4 linked regions of the Homo sapiens genome follow. The protein of the gene in region 1 purifies or fractionates together with the protein of each later gene. This does not show direct contact. Each region holds a gene or a part of one and is shown on either strand. Other genes may lie near its edges.

Region 1 (4,079 bases):
ATTGGTAGGGGTTACTGGATATCATTCTTAAGTTTTTGGTTTCCTTTCTTGTTAAGGTTACGCCTACAAAGACATTCTTTGGAAACTAGTAGAGGTAAGTGTTGCAACTCTATTAGGTTCTTGACTCTGAAATTTGTATTCCTTCCTAAGAATTTTGTGTTTTTATTCTGTTGAAGCATATGCTTCTTAAGTATTTTTTTTTTTTAAACAGCTCAAAGACAACTCAAAGCAGACATCCCAACTGTAGACTTCAATTTAGACATAAACTCCAGGTTTGGTGAGTTACTGTAATTGTTTCAGTTTCATGGATCTTAAAGATGAGGAAATAGCAGGGTAAAGTGTTAAATAAGATAGCCTGCAATTGTTAGAGAAATAACAAGGCACCAAGTTTCATGATATAGTCCAGTCTGATAATTCCTTCTTAAGTATGAACTCATTCCTCGGAGAATCTGAAATAGGAGTGAGGGGCATCAGCCCATTGGTATGACCCAAGAGAAACACATCTAAGGATCTGAAACTAGTTATACCCCATACTCTGTTTTGCTTAGCTCTGCTCTTTGGTGTGTTCCTCTGTTTGTTCCTTTGTACATTAAGATCACTATAAATGGGCCAGGGGTGGTGGCTCATGCCTGTAATCCCAGCACTTTGGGAGGTTGAGTGGGTGGATCACTTGAGGTCAGGAGTTCGAGACCAGCCTGGCCAAGATGGCGAAACCCCGTCCCTACTAAAAAATACAAAAATCAGCTGGGTGTGGTGGTGGTCACCTGTAATCCCAGCTACTCGAGAGGCTGAGGCAGGAGAATTGCGGAAGGTGGAGGTTGCAGTGAGCCGGATCCGGGATTGCACCACTGCACTTCAGCCTGGGTGACAGACTAAAACTCTGTCTCAAAAAAAAAAAAAAAAAATCACTGTAAGTGTAAAGTAGGGGAAGCCCTGAGCTTATCTCACACACTCTAACTCTGTTTTTTTTTTTTTTTTTTTTTGCGTGTTCTCCAAGGCAATGTCTCAGGAGCCCCTTTAAAATCAAGCTTGAAATCTTATAGCTGAGATCTAAGGGTGGAAATAAAGCCCTCATTGTCTTTATATGAGAATCGGAACTTGTTCATAGAGGAAAGGGGATAAATTTGAAAGGGGTTAGACCTAAGAACTCTTCTTTCTAGCTTTAACTCCTGAGACTATGAAAAACAAACAAAAAAAAACATCTTGGGCATTAGGACCCAGTGGAAGTGCCTCTGCCTCATTCAGACTCTGTTAACTTCTCTCAGTGACGTAAAGGAGCAGCCCGAGCTCATTCTCTGCCCGCAGCCCCCCTTCATCTCTCTCCTCCTGCTCCTTTTCTCCTCCTTTCTCCTCCCCCTCCCTTTTTTCCTCCCTCCCTCTCCCCCTTTCCCTCGCTCCCCTCCTCCCTCCCTCCCCGTCTTTCTTACCCCCTCCCTTTCTCTCTCTCTCTCTCTCTCGCTCGTTCCCTAACATTAAAGAGAAAATGCTGCTATCCGTGACTTCCAGGCCCGGGATTTCGACTTTTGGCTACAATAGAAACAACAAGAAGGTAGGGAAAAGCGCTTTTTTGGTATCTAGCTACTTCTTTTTCTGGGGATCTTGCAATGCCCTTGGTTTTTACATTCTTTTTAAAGAGGGGAAGGGGCTTCCTCTCTCAAGATTCCTAATTCCTCACCGCGCTTCTCCCTTTTCCACTACTGCTTTCTGCATCTTTCCTCAACTGGTTCTGGAGTTCAGGGAACTTTCAGTCTCTGCGAGGCCTGAAAAGACAGGGGAATTAAAAACAAATCAAGCTTGCAAGTTTGTATCCTTATGAAATGAAGTTAGTTTGACTTCCTGCTGATGTATCAATCTCCACAAGGATAATATGTCATTTCAGACCCTGTCCCCCAGTCCACCCCACCCCACAAGATTATTTTATTTTTTGATTAACTGTTTCCATTCTCTCCCCAACCTTCCCTCCTACCCATACCACCAGTAGTATTAGATAGCTGAAATCATAGATAGTCAGAGAAACCACAACAGTTTATCAAGAGCTGGGTATACTCTTCTAGACTACAGATCCTACCCCACCCAGCCTATAGAGAAGGAGTCTTGAGAGACATCGCACCTTGGGATTAAGGCACAGAGCGCTGTGATACTTTGGATCTTGTATTTGAACTGATACTTGGACCTCTGCAGATAGCCAGACTTTGCAGTGATCCTAGGAGTCTTTATGATTAACCCATGGCTGCCAGAGAATTGTGCTGTCCTTGGGCACATGGGGAGAGATGGACAATCTTGTCCATATTTGACAAGGAATATATTTGGCAGTTTCTGGCATTTCAGGGCGCACAGCATACTGATTAGGAGGAATTTCATGCTGTAGCAGGAAGAAGACTCTTTACCCTCTCTTTGTGTTGTAGCTGTTCTTTGAAGAAAAAATGTGACATAGACATTTAGGGAATCTTTTGCTCATCTAATGGAATGTTGGAGGGTGAGGAACGATTCCTGCTGCTTTCTCATGTACCTAATGAGACCATTAGAGGTGGATTTAAACACAAGTGTCTGATCAATGCAGTGGGTAAATGTTTAGACCCAAAACACTTAATGTTGATTTATGGGCTTAGTCTGTGTGGTACTCATTTTGTTTATATCCTGAAGAAATATGGGTAGAGGGGAGAGGAAATGGGGAGCTATAGGTCAGAGGATACAAAGTAGTAGATATGTAGGATGAACAAATCCTGAGATCCAATGTACAACATGAGGACTATAGATGATAAAGTTGTACTGTATATGGGATTCATGCTAAATGAGCAGACTTTAGCTCCTCTTGCCACAAAAAGAAACAAAAGGGACAATTATGTGGGATGATTAATTTACTTCACTATAGTAACCTTTCTACTATCTATATGTATCCCGTAACATGTTGTATACCTTAAATATACACAATAAAATTTACTTTAAAAAAGAAATGAGGCTGGGCATGGTGGCTTATGCCTGTAATCCCAGCACTTGGGAGGCCAAGGTGGGTGGATCACTTGAGGTCAGGAGTTCGAGACCAGCCTGGTCAACATGGTGAAACCCCAAATTAGCTGGGCTTGGTGGCACGCGCCTGTAATCCCAGCTACTCAGGAGGCTGAAGCAGGAGAATCACTTGAACCTGGGGGACAGAGGTTGCAATGAGCCAGGATTGTGCCACTGCACTCCAGCCTGGGTGACAGAGCAAGACTCCATCTCAAAAAGAAATGAAATATGAGTTTATACACATTTGTTGGTTATCAATATATGTTTATATGTACATATACTGACATCCCTTTATCAAATATATGTATAGATAATACATTATATATTATACGTATATATTTGAAAGGGAAATATTTCACATGTCTTTATTCTTTTCAAACCTTGTAGAGTACCATGTGAAAATTTCTTTCCTGATTTTTTTCCCTCCTAGTTCTCTCAGGTTACCCAGAACTCATTAAAATAAAATGAATTCCCAAAATGAATTGCTTCCCTATTAGAGGTTTCACGTATTTGAAGCTATCTAAAAATCTCTTTTTGCTCTCTGCTCCCTCTCCCACCTTGGAGTATAGGAAAAAGTTAATTAGCTTCTAAATCTAGGATAGTATAGGGGACAAGAGGTATGGTTGTGGGTTTGGGTTGAAATCTCTTAGTAAGGTTTGACAATTCAGGAATTGTTGGAATTGGTTGGGGAGGATAGGTAGATACATAATTACTAATTACTAATGTATTTGTCAATTCTTTGGGTTCTTATAAGTCAATGTTATGATCAGATGTAAGGATGCTGTATCTGTGCATCACTCTGTGGCCATGCATATGACTCCTTTTGTGCCTATATAAGTTTGTGAACGTGGAGGGTTTTCATATTTTTATTTTTACTTTTTTTTTTTTTGAGATGGAGTCTCGCTCTGTCACCCAGGCTGGAGTGCAGTGGTGTGATCTCAGCTCACTGCAGCCTCCGCCTCCCAGGTTCAAGCAATTCTGCCTCAGCCTCACAAGTAGCTGGAACTACAGGAGTGCCACCACACCCGGACAATTTTTTTGTGTTCTTAGTAGAGACGGGGTTTCACCATGTT
Region 2 (3,500 bases), on another chromosome or scaffold:
CTCATATGGCTACCCTACCACTTATACAGTTCTCACAATACTCATTCTGATAAGCAAATCTTACATCATTCTTCTGAGCTAAAGTTTTCAATGGCTCCTATTTGCAAAGAGGATAAAATCTAATCTCCATGGTATAGCACACAAAGCCTGCTGTGACCTAGCCCACTGTCTATCACTGTCCAATCCCATTGACCACCAGTATCTGATAACATTTTATATACCAAATGATAGAAAGCTGCTTATAATTTCTTGAACACTACTGGCTCTCTCATACTTTTGTATATGTAAAATGGCCATTTCCTCTGCCTGATTCATGTAAGGAAAGCAAATGCCTATTCATGCTTAACCTCTCAACTGCAGTCTTCTTTATATAATCTCATTCTACAAAGCAGTCCCTCATTCCTCTACAATACTTTGTACATTTTCTACCAATAAACTTATTGCATTTTAGTGCAGCAGTTTGCTCTCATCTCTCTCTCCTCAGTGTTTATCTTCTTAAAGACAGAAAATGTCTTTTCAGTTTATTTTTCAATCCTCAGTACTAAGTGTAGTCAGCTGGCACATAGGTAGGCATGCCAATAATTATCTGCTTTTTCAACAAATAAGTTATGAAGGTGATATATAAATACATGAAAAAGAATAGCTTCTCCTAAAGTAATTGTGGAGAATGAATAGCTACTTTAGGAATGATAGGGAGCTAATGATAATCATAGTGGCCCACACATCATATGTTATGTACCCAGCTTGTGCTTCATACATTATCACAAAAACAGTATGGGATGGATGTTATAATGAAACTCATTTTGTAGATGAATAAATAAGGCACAAAATGTTAAAAAGTTTGCTCAAGGTCACAGTAACTGACAAAGACAAGACAAAGAGAGATCTATACTAACCACTATTCTACTCTGCTTTTCAATACAGGCAAATGTTAAATCATCACTGCTATTTCTAGGGCTTTGCTATCCCTTACTGCTATTTAACTGCTTTCCTCTTTCTCCACTTTCACTTTTCTCTGTGTTTTTAGGCTCTTCTTTCTTCATTTTCTTTCTTCCTTTCACTTTCTTTTCCTTTAATTCTCTATTCAATTTCCATAATGAACATAACCTATACTATACGATCAAGTATTTCCTCCTAAAATACCTTCTCTTTTCTTTTTTTAATCAAGGAAAACAAAGAAGAAATAGTTAGAAAAGAGGTGAGTTAGGACTGCATACATTACCTCCTGAAAGAAGTTGCAAGAAACAGAGAAAACTAAGAACAGACCTTTGAATATGGCAAAAGAAAAACCTGTGATAACTGAGAGAGCAATATTTTAGCTAAATTATGGAAGAAAAAGCTGTAAGGAATACTAATGCTTAGTAAGAAAATGAAGCCAATTGCTGAAGACCATTATTTGAAAAACTTAACATAAAACACATAAAAAACTAAGATCGCAGCTGGAAAGGATAGTTGAATCAAATGAAGGTGCGGGGGGGCTCGTGATTTGCTTTTTGTTTGTTTAAAGAAATCTGAGCATAAATGGCCAGGCATGGTTGCACATGCCTGTAATCCCAGCACTTTGGGAGACTGCAGCAGGTAGATCACTTGAGCTCATGAGTTCAAGACCAGCCTGGCCAACATGGCAAAACCCCGTCTCTACTGAAAATACAAAAAAAAAAAAAAAAAATGAGCCAGGCGTGGCAGCACATGCCTGTAGTCCCAGCTATTCTGGTGGCTGAGGCAAGAGAATCACCTGAACCCAGGAGGCAGAGGTTGCAGTGAGACAAGATCATGTCTCTGCACTCCAGCCTGGGTGACAGAACGAGACTCTGTCTCAAAAAAAAAAAAAAAAAAAAAATCTGTGCATAAGTAACTGTAAAAAGTTAAACTAGTTTCTCTACTGCAGAAAACAAAACTGTTAGTTCTATGACCGCAAGAACTTTGTCTGTCTTGTTCACTGCTATCACACCCAAGGCTTGGCACATAGTAGATACTCAACTACTATAAATACAATTATTCTGATAAAAAAAAAACTATAAATTGTATATAGTCCAAGCTGGGTGCGGTGGCTCACGCATGTAATCCCAGCACTTTGGGAAGCTGAGGGATGTGGATCATTTGAGGTCAGGAGTTTGAGACCAGCCTGGCCAACATGGTGAAACCCCATCTCTACTAAAAATACAAAAAAAATTACCTGGGCATGGTGGCGCACACCTGTAATCTCAGCTACTCAGGAGGCTGAGGCAGGAGAATTGTATGAACCCGGGAAGGGGAGGTTGCAGTGAGCCGAGATGTGCCACTGCGCTCCAGCCTGGGCAACAGAGCAAAACTCCGTCTCAAAAAAAAAAAAATTGTATACTCCATTTTTAAGTTACAGTTTAATTTTATATCTTCTACCAACTGAATGAGTGCTGGATTAAACATTCATTCATTCATTCATTCATTCATTCATTCAAATATTTGTAGAGTACGTACTATTTTCCAGGTACTATACTCTAGGCAATGGGAATGTAGCAATGGACAAAACAAAACCATCTTTGCTCTAATGAGAGGCACTGAACACACATCACACACACACACACAAAAAAAAGATGCTAAGAGTGATATGTCCTAAAATGAATACAAAAGCATAATAATGATATTTAGTGATAATAGGAAGTGGTAGTAATATTTTATATAGGATGGTCATGGAAGGTCTCTCTGTTTAGATGATGTTCGAATGAGAAAGTGAGCAAGGCAAGTAAGCAAACAGTACTACTACAGACCTATGCAACAGTAAATCCAAAGACCTGAGGAGGGAGAGTGCTTAGTGTGTATGAGGAAGATCAAGGAGGCTGCCAAGGCTGAAGTAAAGGAAGCAAAGGAAAGCATAACAGAACCAGCTATAATAGATCCATATTTCATCTACAACAATTGTAACAGTACCTAATCATTAATGGAGTCTTTCATACATGGATAGTTTTTAAACTAATATGTGAAGGGGCAGAAATTTAGAAAAATTTCAAATTCATTACCTTGCAAAAATTCTCCGTTTTGGTTATTTTCCCTTATATAACCAAAACTTCTGATTGTTCCAATAATGCAAACAAAACCCTGAAGTACAAGGTACTATTCTATGAGTTAAAAATGCTACACATTACAAGAACTTTAATATCCATGAGTCTCACGTATGATACAACACCAAATTCCTCACGGAAAGCAGTGTCCTGCTCATATGTGGATATCTTTTGGACAAGTCTGCTGGGATATCGTTTGGACAAGACATCGAGTGGAGCACTAGTGTTCAATTCTAAGAGTTAGAAGTTAAGAGGAATACACATTAGTGTAATTCTAATTTTCTAATCATGTCCCTTTCTTACCTGACAATAACTTAGTATGGTATAAAAGAATTCAACTGTTCCCATATATGCCACAGTACCTATCACAGGTTAATATGCATAATAAACATCTGATACCATTAAGTCAAGATTTTTTTTTGGCTGGGCACAGTGGTTCACGCCTGTAATCCCAGCACTTTG
Region 3 (3,940 bases), on another chromosome or scaffold:
GCCTCCCGAGTAGCTGGAACTATAAGCGCCCACCACCACGCCCAGCTAATTTTTGTATTTTTAGTAGAGACGGGGTTTCTCCATGTTGGCCAGGCTGGTCTTGAACTCCTGACCTCAAGTGATCCATCTGCCTCAGCCTCCCAAAGTACTGGGATTACAGGCATGAGCCACTGCGCCTGGCCGAGCCTGTGTCTCTTGAGTTGCTTTTAGGTTAACATTAGATAACCCCAATTTCCAACCTCCATTCTGTCACTAACCACCTGTCACTCAATCTCTGAGCAGCTATCCATCACAGCGTTGCTGTGAGGAATTAAATAAGCTAATATCTGAAACACATTCAAGGCTTTGTTCAATAGCATAAAGATCTATTGGATGCTTATTATGTGCCAAGCACTGTGTGGTTTGTAAGAAAACATTATAAAAGAGAGCTGTTGTATAGTTGGGAACTGGCAACGGATGGTCGGCCATGCCAACTCCTGTGGTTGGGAGGATCATATGCAAGAAATGTGGTTGCTGGCCGGGCGCGGTGGCTCACGCCTGTAATCCCAGCACTTTGGGAGGCCGAGGCGGGTGGATCACCTGAGGTCAGGAGTTCGACACCAGCGTGGCCAACATGGTGAACCCGTCCCTACTAAAAATACAAAAATTAGTCAGGCATGGTGGCGGGCGCCTGTTAATCCCAGCTACTCGGGAAGCTGAAGCAGGAGAATCGCTTGAACCTGGGAGGCGGCGGTTGCAGTGAGCAAAGAACACGCCACTGCACTCCAGCCTGGGCGACAGAGCAAGACTCCGTCTCAAAAAACAACAACAAACAACAACAACGACAACAACAAAAACCATCAATGTGGAAGAGTTTCAAGTGCTCTTCATGTGCCAGGTAGAAAGCGTAAATACTACATTGCGTTGCGTTATTTATTCCATAAATATCTGTTGAGGACCCACTGTGGTGTGGCATCGTGTTCCGTTCAACGGCTATGGCTGTTTAAGTAAACGCATGAGTCCCTCCAGGACCCCAGAACGCAGCCCGAAGGGCCTCAGAGCCGGGGCGGAACCAGCGTCTGCGGAACCTTTCTTCCCGCTCCCGGTGCCCCGGAAGCCCCGGCAGGAAATGCGTCAGGGACCACGCTGCGCCGCGCCGCCGCAGTCGGGCCTCGGTCGCCACGGTAACGCGCGCGGGCAGGTGTCCGACCATGAGCGTCCGGGTCGCACGGGTAGCGTGGGTCAGGGGCTTGGGCGCCAGCTACCGCCGCGGCGCCTCGAGCTTCCCGGTGCCTCCGCCGGGCGCCCAGGGTGTAGCGGAGCTGCTGCGAGATGCGACCGGGGCGGAGGAGGAGGCGCCCTGGGCGGCGACGGAGCGGCGAATGCCGGGCCAGTGCTCCGTGCTGCTCTTCCCGGGCCAGGGCAGCCAGGTGGTGGGCATGGGCCGCGGTCTGCTCAACTACCCGCGCGTCCGCGAACTCTACGCCGCCGCCCGCCGCGTGCTGGGCTACGACCTGCTGGAACTGAGCCTGCACGGGCCGCAGGAGACCCTGGACCGCACCGTGCACTGTCAGCCCGCGATCTTCGTGGCATCGCTGGCCGCTGTCGAGAAACTACATCACCTGCAGCCCTCGGTGAGGCCCGAGGCCCCGTGACAGGAGGGGGAAGGTGAGCTCTGCCTGAGCTCTTGGCCCTGCCAGAGGCTTCCGCCTGCCATTCCGGGGGCTCCCACGTCTTACTCATTCGATCGAGTTTTTTTTTTTGTTTGTTTTTGTTTTTTTTTTTGAGACGGAGTCTCGCTCTGTCGCCCAGGCTAGAGTGCAGTGGCGCGATCTCGGCTCCGCCTCCCGAGTTCACGCCATTCTCCTGCCTCAGCCTCCCAAGTAGCTGGGACTACAGGCGCCCGCCACCATGCCCGGCTAATTTTTTGTATTTTTAGTAGAGACGGGGTTTCATCGTGTTAGTCAGGATGGTCTTGATCTCCTGACCTCGTGATCTGCCCGCCTCGGCCTCCCAAAGTGCTGGGATTACAGGCATGAGCCACCGTGCCCGGCCCGTTTTGTTTTGTTTTTTGAGACAGAGTCTTGCTCTGTCACCCAGGCTGGAGTGCAATGGCGCAGTCTTGGCTCACTGCAACCTCTGCCTCCCAGGTTCAAGCAGTTCTCCTGCCTCAGCCTCCGCAGTAGCTGGGATCACAGGTGCACACCACCACGCCCGGCTAATTTTTTTATTCTTTACTTAAATCCTCCCAGGTTCACCCACCTCGGCCTCCCAAAGTGCTAGGATTACAGGTATGAGCCACTGCACTGGCCTAAATGAAGGAACATTGAGATGAGTTGAGAATGTCACTTCACTTGAAGGTGGTGGATTGATTGCTATTAATATTTAATAAGACGGTAAATGTTAAGCTAGCACTTGAGATCCTTTACCCTATTTCACCTTCACACCACCTTGTGAGGTTAATACTGTTATTTGATGGTTGAGGAATGCAGACTCAGGGATATTAAAAGAATTAGTTAAGTGGTCCTGTTGAATCGTCATCATAATATTCATTCACTGCTTACCCTAGTCTGGGTCTGTGCTAAGCACTGTATAGACATTATATTCACATAATTCTCTCATCCGCCCTTTGGGGTAGGCCCTGTTCTTCCCTCATTTCACAGATGAGATAAAAATGCTCTTGGCCGGGCGAGGTGGCTCACGCCTATAATGCCTATAATCCAGCACTTCAGGAGGCTGAGGTGGGTGCATCACGAGGTCAGGAGTTCAAAACCAGCCTGGCCAACATGGTGAAACCCCGTCTCTACTAAAAATACAAAAATTAGCCAAGTGTGGTGGTGGACACCTGTAATCCCAGCAACTCGGGAGGCTGAGGCAGGAGAATTGCTTGAACCCGGGAGGCGGACGTTGCAGTGAGCCGAGATCACGCCATTGCACTCCAGCCTGGGCAACAAGAGCAAAACTCCGCCTCAAAAAAAAAAAAGTCATGCTCTTAACTTGTGCACAACGATATGGCCTGAGAGCCTGCTGCAGGGCCATGGCAAGGGAATCCAGAGCCCTGGGTTGGCGTCAGTGTGACCATGGACGGAGTTGATGGACTGTAACTAACCAGGAAAGCTCCTCCTAAATAAAGGGGCAGGACTCAATGATTGTCAAGGTCACTTTTGTGTGTCCTCTTCCAGCTGGTGCACCAAGTTCGTAGAACCTGGCTCACTGAGATGCTGAACACCCCGCCAGCTCTCAGGTACAGAGCCCTGGAACTGGGATCCCCAGGAGAGTGAGGGCTCACGTTCTGCATCTGTCCCCACAGGTGATTGAGAACTGTGTTGCTGCTGCTGGATTCAGTGTGGGAGAGTTTGCAGCCCTAGTGTTTGCCGGAGCCATGGAATTTGCTGAAGGTACAGGAAGGAGTTTGGTTTTATGCAAGGCTGTGGTCTTGGGCTCATTAGGGGTAAGGGACACTGCCAAAAATGATACTGGACCCACTCAGGTGATGGGAAGGGAGCACATGGACAGGGGTGACATTGGCACATGAGGACAGGGCTTTGCTGTGATTCCTTTTCAAGACTGAAGGATTCATTAGGGATTTCCCTTATTTTTGTAATCTCATGAAATCTGCTTGCTGAACTGTCTAACCCGCTATCCTGTGCACTCATACCTGCAGCACCTGCAACACGAGAGTATGTGTTCAGTAGATATTCGTTGAATTAAAGAGTAAATAAATATTGGATCTGGAGCCATATCAGTTTTACTTCTTAAGATTTTTGCTGGCCAGGAACCATGGCTTACGTCTGTAATCCCAGTGCTTTGGGAGGCCAAGGCAGGAGGACCACTTGAGGCCAGGAGTTCCAGACCATCTTGGGCCACATAGTGAGACCTTCATCTCTGCCCCCAACAAAAAACAAAAATTACGTTGGGTGCAGTGATTCACACCTGTAATGCCAGCACTTTGGGAGGCAGA
Region 4 (3,500 bases), on another chromosome or scaffold:
CCTTGCAGTGGAGACCTGAGTCCTATCTGACATTGGGACTACAGTTAGGGCAGAATTTCCTAAACTGCCATTTTTTAAAGAAATAAGGGTAACCAAATGTTCCCCTTAAAAGCACTCTGGTACCCTCTAGTATTGGGAGATAACTATCTTCCCCTAATTAGATTTGTAAAATCTTTCTCAATATTTATTTACATTTTTTTCCCCTCAAATATATTGACTTTTTCATTCCCAGTAACAATATGTCTGGTCTGTAACTAAGTCATTCCATGTTCAGATTACAGATTTATTTCCCCATCTTTTCACATTCTTTTAGTCCAGGAGACCCACTTTGAAGGTTAAAACCAAGGTCACACAATGAATAGGTGGCAGTGTCACATATAACTCAGCTCCAGGCCTTATGAATCCTGCTTATAGCCCACTGCCTATTCTAGTCACCAGATTGAAAAACACCATACTAGGGAAGAAGACGGCAAACTATTGCCCACTACATATTTGTATCAGTCTTGTCAAATTTTTATTGTAGTATGTAATAGAATTAAAGCTATGATGAATCAAGTAAAAAATGATTTCCTTAAAAACTAAGCTAATAGGCGAAAATACTCGCTTGTTCAACAAATACCCAGTCTGGCAGATACAATACCCTGCCCTTAGTGGGGGGTGGAGTGGGGGGTGGGGGGGTGGGGAAAGACATCGTGGTGAAAACAGACATGGTCCTTGAACTTCCTGGTTCTGTGGGTTGCTTAATTTGAGGTTTAAATGGTTTCTCCCATCAGGTGAAAAGTTTTGTGTTCGGCCCATAAACAAAGCAGCTGTGAATTCTGATAGTGGTAAAAAGGCCAGTCTAGGATATAAAACCTTCATAAACATCTTATTTCCCATTCATTATGAAGTGTGGGGTAGGAGATCAGAGAAACCAGATGAGGATTGCTGGCTGTGCTGCTAATGTGAACTCTTCTTTCAAAAGTATTGTGTCCTTTTATTCTCAATGGAGACATCAGAAAGTATTAAGAGGAGTACTATTATAATACTAATAGGATACTGAAAATCTATACTGATTGCAGCCAGAGGCTCCAAAATAAACAATACTATGATGAGTTCCACAAAAAAACCTCAACTACTCTTTGTTCCAGGGAAGCACCATTTTCCACAAAACTCTCAAGAAGGACTTGTTGCAACTGGAAAAGCAATTAAATGTGAATCGTGATCCAGGAGAAAGTAACAACTCACATAACTCCCAAATTAAAAGTTTTCCAAAGATATATCATTTTTTTTCTCTTGGCCTTTTAAGAAACTAGCCAACAAATACTCTTGACAGGTTTGTGTTTGGTTTTGAAAACACACACCTTAGTGTACTGAAAGAAAAACAATTTCTTTTAATTTGGTTTGTTGGTCCCACACCCCATCTATCAATGTATGTGCTATTTACAAATAAGTTCTATACAGTATTTTTGCAGTACCTTTGATAATTCCTAGACCTCTATTTTCATTCTGTGTATTAATGTGAATAACAGATGGATATTTTAATATTTAAGGCAGATGGTAAACTTTCCTATAGGTCTTGTGAGACTTCGTCTTATAGGCTGAACACCATTCACAAAATGTAATAATGCTTCATTCCTTCAGGTTGAGGTAAAGAACTTGAGCAACTGGATTAGCAAAGCTGCAAAGAATGAAATGTGGCCTAAGATGTAATTATGTTCTCTGCCCTTCCTTTGGGCCAGGGTAGTTTTGCACTTGACACAATGGAAAATAGGCCATAAAGCCTGAAAATAAAATGTTCTAAACCCCAATCTCACAGCACTTTAGTAGGCTTTTCACTAGGCATCTTTAAAGTATTTTCAACAAAATACTAATTAAGCTACCACTTCAAAAGAGCTTCAAGGAAAAGCTCTGCTTTCTTATAAAATCTTTTTGAGACAGAGTTTCGCTCTTGTCGCACAGGCTGGAGTGCAATGGCGTGATCTCGACTCACCGCAACCTCCGCCTGCTGGGTTCAAGTGATTCTCTAGCCTCAGCCTCCTGAGTAGTTGGGATTACAGGCGCCCGCCACCACACCTGGCTAATTTTTGTATTTCTAGTAGAGACAGGGTTTCACCATGTTGGCCAGGCTGGTCTCCGGACCTCAGGTGATCTGCACACTTCGGCTTCCTAAACTGCTGGAATTACAGTCGTGAGCCACTGTGCCTGGTCTCATAAAACTTTTAAATTCCATCACATTACATTCACACCTTTTGCTAACCAGGATGAAGAGCCTTAAACAGGTTTAAAGAGTGCAGACTGCAGTTTTGTTAATACTTTTTTCCTCTCCAAGTTCTTTTATGCTAACATTTCCAGTGGTGGGAAGTACAAGTACTATTAGTCATCTTCATTCTTTGCATTGCCAAAGAGTTCCTCTTTCTCCGTCTTGTTCTGAAGGATGAACAAAAGCTTGAGGTGTACGTATCAGAACGTAAACTGCAGCACGAAGACCACCAACGTTCACCCAGACTGTATCCACCTTTCGCCATACGTGTCGCATTCCAGATAACGCCTGTGTACACACAAAAAAAATAACAATTAGGTTGACAATCTACTTTTACATCAACTAGGATTCTTAACTGCCAAGATAGGAAACCTCAGGGGAAGAGAAAACAAATCTTATCCAAACAAACATCCCCAAATCTCAAAAAGATCCCAAAGTTGCCACAGGCTGCGATTTTGAGCTAATGTGTATAGCACCTTGGTAAAGCATTTTGTGTCTTGAGTAAGTAGTACAGCTCGGCCTGTGGTAGGTGTGCAGACACGGCTCATCTCCCGTAGGCAAGCTGGATAAAGGTTCCAGTTTCTCTTCTTGGATCCCATCCTATAATAGAAGGTCTCATGAGTCAAACACTTGCAAAAGATACAAAATAGAAGGACTATATGAAACAAAAACAGTTTCATGCATCCTGAGGCATGAAAAATAGCTGTAGTTTTAGAAACCAGACCTTTGCCATTACATGTCTATGAAATAAGTTGAGTTAGTAAACTGCTTAGAATTCTGAATCAAAAAAATTTTTTTTAGACAACTGTGTTAGTTATATGACTTGTCCTCTTAGTATAATAAGCAGTCAAACTGTATAAACCAAACAAGTGATTAGAAATCATTTAGGCCAGGTGTTTTGGTGGCTCATGCCTGTAATCCCAGCAGTTTGGGAGGCTGAGGCGGGCAGATCACCTGAAGTCAGGAGTTTGAGACCAGCCTGGCCAATATGGTGAAACCCTGTCTTTTAAAAATACAAAAATAAGCTGGGCATGATGGCATGTGCCTGAAATCCGAGCTACTCAGGAGGGTGAGGCAGGAGAATCGCTTGAACCCGGGAGGCAGAGGTTACAGTGAGCCGAGATCATACCACTGCACTCCAGCCTGGGCAACAGAGCAGGGCTCTGTCTCCAAAAAAAAAAAAAGAATCATTTATGCTGAGAAACAGAATGAGAACCAAGTCTTCTACCACCTTTTTGTGTAGGATATATAATTCAAG

What was found. The genes of interacting proteins can lie anywhere in the genome.
Region 2: the proteins of RBMS2 (region 1) and MRPL1 purify together in Homo sapiens (affinity purification with mass spectrometry; one large-scale study listed by BioGRID and IntAct). This does not show direct contact.
Region 3: the proteins of RBMS2 (region 1) and MCAT purify together in Homo sapiens (affinity purification with mass spectrometry; one large-scale study listed by BioGRID and IntAct). This does not show direct contact.
Region 4: the proteins of RBMS2 (region 1) and THUMPD3 purify together in Homo sapiens (co-immunoprecipitation; one large-scale study listed by IntAct). This does not show direct contact.

What each region holds. Positions count from the first base shown.
Region 1 is NC_000012.12:56,520,541-56,524,619, forward strand, and holds the start of RBMS2 (RNA-binding motif, single-stranded-interacting protein 2), read left to right. Parts: upstream 1-1,279; 5' UTR 1,280-1,483; coding exon 1,484-1,549; intron 1,550-4,079.
Region 2 is NC_000004.12:77,897,330-77,900,829, reverse strand, and holds part of MRPL1 (large ribosomal subunit protein uL1m precursor), read right to left. Parts: intron 1-3,500.
Region 3 is NC_000022.11:43,140,599-43,144,538, reverse strand, and holds the start of MCAT (malonyl-CoA-acyl carrier protein transacylase, mitochondrial isoform a precursor), read left to right. Parts: upstream 1-1,140; 5' UTR 1,141-1,190; coding exon 1,191-1,613; exon of another isoform or gene 1,614-1,647; intron 1,648-3,289; coding exon 3,290-3,377; intron 3,378-3,940. UniProt on the Homo sapiens protein: Catalyzes the transfer of a malonyl moiety from malonyl-CoA to the free thiol group of the phosphopantetheine arm of the mitochondrial ACP protein (NDUFAB1). This suggests the existence of the biosynthesis of fatty acids in mitochondria.
Region 4 is NC_000003.12:9,383,554-9,387,053, reverse strand, and holds the end of THUMPD3 (tRNA (guanine(6)-N(2))-methyltransferase THUMP3), read right to left. Parts: intron 2,843-3,500; coding exon 2,719-2,842; intron 2,531-2,718; coding exon 2,366-2,530; coding exon of another isoform or gene 2,322-2,365; 3' UTR 263-2,321; downstream 1-262. UniProt on the Homo sapiens protein: Catalytic subunit of the THUMPD3-TRM112 methyltransferase complex, that specifically mediates the S-adenosyl-L-methionine-dependent N(2)-methylation of guanosine nucleotide at position 6 (m2G6) in tRNAs.